Homo sapiens: one gene and its partner. The protein of the gene in region 1 interacts with the protein of each later gene in a pairwise test. Each region holds a gene or a part of one and is shown on either strand. Other genes may lie near its edges. The genes, in order: SLC41A1 and SLC23A2.

The links.
Region 2: the proteins of SLC41A1 (region 1) and SLC23A2 interact in a two-hybrid assay, tested with the Homo sapiens proteins (one large-scale study listed by BioGRID).

The regions. Positions count from the first base shown.
Region 1 is NC_000001.11:205,792,683-205,796,501, reverse strand, and holds part of SLC41A1 (solute carrier family 41 member 1), read left to right. Parts: intron 1-1,023; coding exon 1,024-1,158; intron 1,159-1,483; coding exon 1,484-1,632; intron 1,633-3,819. UniProt on the Homo sapiens protein: Na(+)/Mg(2+) ion exchanger that acts as a predominant Mg(2+) efflux system at the plasma membrane.
Region 2 is NC_000020.11:4,879,466-4,883,284, reverse strand, and holds part of SLC23A2 (solute carrier family 23 member 2), read left to right. Parts: intron 1-3,819. UniProt on the Homo sapiens protein: Sodium/ascorbate cotransporter. Mediates electrogenic uptake of vitamin C, with a stoichiometry of 2 Na(+) for each ascorbate.

The DNA of each region.
Region 1 (3,819 bases):
GGAAAACTGGGCATGTGCAAAATGGGCAAAACAAGAGAGGCAAACCTCGCTTTATGACAACCCACTCTCATGGGAACTATACCTTTCCCAAGAAAGACATTAATCCATCTTAATAACCTATTCACTCTTAAAGGCACCACCTCCCACCACCACATTTGGGGACCAAGCCACAACATGAGTTTTGTTGGGGACAAACTATATTCAAACCATAGTAACGAGGGAATAGCATTATAGGAGTCCAGTGAAAGCTCTGTCTTTGCCCCCAACATGGGGAAGCCAATGCTGAAAAGCAGGGAGGGATTGGGAAAGAAATACCTGATCTCTCTCTCCACCTGCCCTCTGGTTGCCTGCTGTTGCCTCCCACTGAACAAACAGTGGAAGCAGCCAGCAAGGGAGACTGGGTAATGCAGTCTGTGGAGACCAGTCCCCCAGAGCTCAGAGCAAGGCTGAGAAGAGCAGGGAGCAGGTTGGGATGTGAGGGCAACAGAGAAATCAGCACAGGTCCTGGCGGAGATACCAGATTCCAGAGTTTGGAGCTCAAACCTGATCCTTGAAACTGGTTACCAGAATCAGCATATGACCATAGGATGCCTGGGTCTGCTCAGAGCATTGGAGAGGAGGTGAGGCGGTGAGGCAAGGCAGGGCTTCATCCCCTCAGCTGTGTAGGAAGGCAGGTGCCCATGCTCTACTGGTGGAGAAGTCAGGCTCTCTGAGTCTGCAGATCTGCACGTATCCTTTCCGGCACTGTCACAGCTTTGCCAGGGGAACATGGAACTGCTGCATCTCCATAGAGGGGAGGATGGGGGAGGCTGGAAGATGCACTGGAAGCAGGGGTCTTTGTCTTCCTTCTTAGTGCCTTACTCTTCTTTTGGGGACTGGTGAATGGGTGATGCCCACATAGACCCTAAATTAAGACAGAGGACAGTGCCTCTATAGATAGAAGACAAAGAGTGAGAAGATCATTTTGTTCCCACTCCTCCCTCTGACCTCTGTCTGTGTCTAAGCCCGTATGTGTCTCTGCAGGTGTTGGGGGCAATCTGGTGGCAGTGCAGGCCAGCCGCATCTCCACCTTCCTGCACATGAATGGAATGCCCGGAGAGAACTCTGAGCAAGCTCCTCGCCGCTGTCCCAGTCCTTGTACCACCTTCTTCAGCCCTGGTAACGGCAGATTCCCAGCCTCCCAGCCCTGGGGGGAGTGGGCCTACTGTCAGTGAGCTTCACTTAAGAGACAGCTGGGGCCCCAGATCCACAGGTTCTCCTTCTCTGCTGGGCTGTGCCAGCTGTTCTGAAGGGCAGAGCCCAGGCAGGAGGGCTGTCTTTTCCTGGAGCACCCTAGGGGTTGGAGACCACAGGATGCAGAAGTAGAGACATTCATCTGTCTGTTGCCCTGGGGTATGGTGCCGTCCCTCCTGACTTTGAAAGGCCTTCTGGGGCCAGGTCTTCTCCTCCCCTCCTCTTTACACCCTCTTTTCCCCAATTCCAGATGTGAATTCTCGCTCAGCCCGGGTCCTCTTCCTCCTCGTGGTCCCAGGACACCTGGTGTTCCTCTACACCATCAGCTGTATGCAGGGCGGGCACACCACCCTCACACTCATCTTCATCATCTTCTATATGACAGCTGCACTGCTCCAGGTACAAAGTGGCAGGAGCAGGGGCATGGGAAGGAGCCAGGATGCCCTGCAGGGATGGGAGAGGAGGCCAGACTTGGCCTCTTAGACACTCAACCTCCTCTTTCTCTGTGTCAGGGCAGCTGATAAACACCAGACAAGGGTGCAGGAGAACAGATGGTAGTTCCAGTAGAGTCACCAACATGGTGTGTGACTTTGACCCTGTTCTTTTACTACCCTGATCCTCAGCGATACAGTTGTAAATTGAGAGGAATGGACCAGGGGTGGTAGTTTTCATGCAGGTGGTTGTAGGATGCTGAGCCTGTGGGGTTTGCATGCCAACCCCACTGGCCACAGAGCTCCACATGGCTCTGTTTTGCATGTTGAGCTTTCTCAAGAAATTCATTTGCATAAAGCATCCCATAGCTTGAAAAACTGTCAAAACCACTGCACTAGATAATCTGTCGGATCCTGTGTAGCCTTGCCATTCCATAATACCATGACACTTTCTCCCTTCTTGTATTATTACATTGTAAAAGCTTTTTATTTTGAAATCATTACAGATTTGTAAGAAGTTCTCAAAAAAAAGGTTCAGAAATCCCATATACCATTACCCAATTTCCCTCCATGGGAAAATAACATTTTGCATAACTTTAGGACAGTATCAAAATCAGGAAATTAGCATTGATGCAATCTGCAGTGCTTATTCAGATTGAACCAGTTTTACATGCACTCGTGTGTGTGTGTGCGTGTGTGTTCGTTCTATGCAGTTTTTATCACAAGTGGAGATTTGTGTGACCACCACTATAACCAAAATACAGAAAACTGTTTCATCACCACAAGGCTCCCTTATGCTATCCCTTTACAGCTAGATCCACCCTTATTATTACATTTTAAATTTTTATAGGTTTGATTTTTGAATAGTCACATAGTTCAAAAATGTTTTAAGGTTCATAGAGAAACCTCAGTGAAAAGTCTTCTTTTCTGTCCTCTTCTTCACAGCCATCTGTTTCTCTCCTTCACAGACCATCAGTATTATCCCTTTCTTGTGTGTCCTTCAAACCTATTCTATATTTATAAAAGTAAACATATATTTTTCTTATTTCCTTCCTCTTTTTTACACACATGTAGTATACTGTACACACTGTCTGCACCCTGCATTTTTCATTTAAGTTTATCTTTGAGATCATTCCATATCAATACATAAAGAGAACAACACCCTGATTTTCTTACAGCTCCATCATATTCTGTGATACACAGACCATAATTTTATTTCGCCAGTCCTGTATTGATTAACACCTATCCCTCCAGCCCCCTCACCCCCAGCTTTAGAAAGGTTGTGTTCGGACATCTTGGCAGGGGCGGGGCTGAGAATCAGCCATATGCTGTTGCCCTGCAGCAGTTAGCCAAGCTGCCACATTCCATTGCTAGTGGGTTCCAGTGCAGCACGTGGTGGGAAGATGGGGGTGGATATGCCAGGGGTCTGTGGTGGAGGTTTTCAGCTCATCCCTTGGCCTGAATTGGAAAGGATGAGCCTCAGTGCCATCACCCATGATGAATACCCTGGAGACATTCTTGCCTCTGCTGTCCTCTCTAGATCTGTGGAGGGCCAGAGCGTGACACTTGATCCCCTGTAAAGGCTCTTATTGATCCCTTTGCCACCTCCTCCCAGCTGTGTGTCCTGGGGCCTGCTCAAGAAGCTGGAATGTGAGGACAGCTGCTACCATTCCCTTCCTAGGGCATGTCCCAAAGGCCTCCTGGCCATGCTCTTTATTTGGGACCCTTCTGCAGCTGCTGGAAAGGGTGTGAAGTTATGGAAGGTAGGGGAGCCAAGGCCGTGGTAGCACAAGACAGCTGTGTGCAGAGCAAGGGAGAATGTGAAGAGTCATCTCTGGCTTCCTTGGAGAGAGGGCAGGATTCTCTCAGGCAGAGCCTAAAATTTAAAAAAAAAAAAAGAGAGAGGACAGGAGAGCAACCAAGATTGCCTAAAAATAGGTATCAGTTCTGGCTTCTGGATCCCTTAAGGGCTGTGGTTCCCGCATCTGGATCCCTTAGGGCAGAATTTTCATACCACAGTATTTACAAAGTATAGTCAAGGGTAAAACCTCCCAGATGACTGACTGTATTAGAGCTTGACCGTCAGAATCTGTTTCATTCTCACGCAGATGCAGTCATTTAGGGAGCCCAAATGTCAGGCACTGTGCAGATTCTA
Region 2 (3,819 bases), on another chromosome or scaffold:
CAAAAATATTCCAGAGTGGCAGGAATCTGGAGTATTTCCAGAGAAGTCGTGGGAAAGGTCTGTTGCCATTGATGATGTGACTCTTCTCCCCAGGCCACACTGAGCTCTGCACTCCTGACGGGTGGGTGGTTGGGGGAGGGACATAGTTTCTGCCAGGGTCCTGCTAGTCAGTGCCTGTCCTTTTGTACAGAATGTCACATCCATTAAAGATGTCCCTTGCCCTTTAAGTAAAGTTAACATTTTGTGTTAATGAAGTCACAGGGGAGTTTGATAATATTACTGATGATTAGAGTCACAGAACTCTTTGTAACACAGAGCCCACATTCTCTATGTGTCTGCAGAGCATGTTTAAGAGTTGATTATGTGTAGGTATATGGTTCCATTACTCTGGAATTTAACCAGCCAGTACAACTCCTAAAACAAAATAAGTCATCACATAAGAGAATTTTTCATTTGCTCTGTTTTGTGAAATAGTCTGCAGTTATTTAATAACAGGTGGTATTTATTGATCTTTTACTATGCATCAGTCCTTTATATAACACTTGTATATAGTATCAGATAAGGCACATCCTAGTGTTATCCCATTTAACAGCAGAGGACACTGAGCACCACGACGTAATGTGATTTGCCCAGAGTCATACAGTGAATTAAGTGGCCACCGTGGGTTTCAAAACCCAGGTGGTGGACATGGGCCCGAACCCATCATACTCAATCCTGTTCTGTGTATTAGAACATGACGTACAAATAAAAGGGAACCATAGCAGAATTGTTATCTACACTTTACAAATTAAATTAAGGTGTGTGAAAATATCAAGTTTTTTTTTTTCTTTAAACAAGGTTTGAAGGAGACACATCTCACACATGAGCATGAATACCCATCATCATGCTTTCCCAAAATTGTTCTTTTTTTGCAATGGAGTCTCGCTCTGTTGCCCAGGCTGGAGTGCAGTGGTGCGATCTTGGCTCACTGCAACCTCCACCTCCCGAGTTTAAGCAATTCTCCTGCCTCAGCCTCCCGAGTAGCTGGGATTACAAGCACCCACCACCACACCCGGCTAGTTTTTGTATTTTTAGTAGAGACGGTTTCACCATGTTGGCCAGGCTGGTCTCAAACTCCTGACTTCAGGTGATCTGCCCACCTTGGCCTCCCGAAATGCTGGGATTACAGGCATGAGCCACCGTGCCCAGCCCAAAATTGTTCTTACTATTCTCATTTCACCAAAGGTTGGTCAAAACATTCTTCACACCAGCAGAGATGGGAAGATGGCATGTGAGAATAGTCTTTCAGCGAAATGTAATTAATGCCAAAATGGATAAATTGTAGGTATAGTACAGTAAAATTTGAAACCAGTAACAAAAGGATGAACAAAACCCACAAAGCACTTACAAGCTTAAAAAAAAAAGTGTTAAAAATCACTCTCAGAGAGGAAATTGAAACTTTGCAATTAATTACTGATAGTTTAGGAAATGATGGCAAGAACAGCACCAGTCACACTTAGTAGCCAGAGGTGTTCTCAAGAAAATTCACAACCTTTAAAGCAGATACAGCACATGAAGAATTTCAGTAACTAAGAAAACAGGACAAAAAAATGAACCTAGTAAAAGCAGGGGGAACGAATTAATAAAGATACAGAAAATGTGACACAAATAGAAGTGGTAAATCTAAAAGCTGATCTCTTGAGGGGGAAACAAAACCCAATGTAGACAAACTTCTGGCAAAGCTAAGCAGGATAAGAGGAAGCCTGTGCACATAGATCTGCCACAGATCCCGTCAGAGGGAGCAAAACTGTTACCTCCCCCCAAATTAAAACAAAAAGTAAGAAAATAGTGGTTTTCAGAAAACTTAAGTAACCAAAATTGACTCCTCCTCACTCTTATCTCTAAGTATGGGGGTGCCTCCACACTTGATCCTGGCCCCCTTCTCTCCATGCACTTCCCCCAAGGAAATCGCATTTCTTTGATGGTGGATAGTTCCATGGAAACCTGTAGTTCAGACCTGTAAACTCGATACTTACAGATCCAGCCCCTATTTTGCCCCTCCACTTACTGTTACACAAGACATCTCCATCTGTAAATGAAAAAGCCCCAGACTTTTGATTCCTTTCCTGCCCCTGAAACCAGTTTCTTCTGCTTTCCTCCTTTCGGTGAATGGCACAACCGTGCCCCTAGTTGCTTCAGCCAGAAATGTCTATCTGTTCTTCAGTCTTCCTTTCGCCTCATCCCCCACACAGCCCATCCTGCCCTTCCTCCTCCGGAACAAATTCTGAACCCGTTCTCTTTTGCAGGCCTTCACTGCCGCCACCCTCTGCGAGCCTTGCTCGCCCTTGGCCATTGATTCCTCACTGTCCCCAGCTTCTCCCTCATGTCTCCCAGGGGTCCTCCTCTCTCCCCTCCTTTTGAAACATCAGTTAGACACAAGCTAGAATTCTGGAAGCTTTGGGGTTTTCTTACTGTTCCAATGTCTGGAGCCTCACGTGCTGCCCTCGGTGGGTCTGCTTGCGTCTCTTGGCCTGGATACCTGGAGCCCCTTTGCTCTGAGCACCCAGGCATGCAGAGGTGGGACATGATCTTGAATTATCTAGATGCCTTCCTCCACTCCACCCTTACTTGTCTCTTTCTGGAACCTCTTCCTGAAGCCTCCTGGACTCTTCCTGTTTCCTCTCCTGTTTTCTATCTCTTTGTCTTTTTTCTCTATTCGTGAGAATTCTCCTTTGCTTTATCTCTTATTCCTTCTGCCAAGATTGTCATTTATGCTCTGGTGTTTTTTCAGTTTCCAAGAGCTCTTCTGTATCCTTGGGCTGTCAGCTCTGTGAGAGCAGGGCCTACGCTCTGGGTGGGTCACCTCTGCACCCCCAGCACCTGCCCCTCCCGTGGCTGAGCTGGTGCTCAGTGAGCAGGTTGTGAACTAATAAAGGAAGGCTCAGGAAGCCCGGTAAACCCATGACCACAAGAGCAGCCGAGATAGTTGCTGAAGGACTCTGATTCCTAAAAGAAGCCCTGGGCCCAGATGGTTAGACAATGAGTGCATTCAGTCTTCAAGGAACAGAGACTATATGCACTAACTTGCAAACTGTTCCAGAGCTCTGTGAAAGGAGGGAAACTCCCCAGCCAATCTTAGCGGCAAATTCTGACTGAACTAATACAAAAGGAGAACCATGGACCATTGTTTTCTTTCCTGGGGTTGTGTTAAAAAACAAACAAATCCTGAGCTGATGGATGTATTGCGGCACATTCTAAGCAACGAGCCCTGAGTTCAAATGTCTTCAGGTAGCGTGCTAAAGTTCAGCATCATTCTCTACTGTAAGACTCCTTCCAATCTTTCAAAATGCAAATGCGCAAAAGACTCTATTCACCTTCAGAAAAGGGCCTTAGTATCCAGCCCTGTCCACCCTTAATTTGTTTTTTAAATGTCACACATCTATAAGCATATCTTGACAGACTATTCCTTAGAATGTTGTTTGGGAAGATGCTGCTACAGATAACACAATGAAAGAACAAGGCATAATGCGTCATTTCAAGAATTCACAGATGATCAAATATTAGAAAATGTGTTGAAATCGATCATGGCTCCATGGTAGGTTTTTTTTTATTTGTTAAATTTTGAGACAGGATCCCGCTCCATCACCCAGGCTGGAGTGCAGTGGCACAATCTCAGCTCACTGTGGCCTCTGACTCCTGAGTTCAGGCGATTCTCATTCGTCAGCCTCCCAAGAGTACCTGGGACTACAGGGTAGATTTTATTAATAAGGTCTTATTGATAAAACTATGGTAATAGTCCCTTCCCCTGAATTTTATTTTTAAAATTCAACCTACATCCTT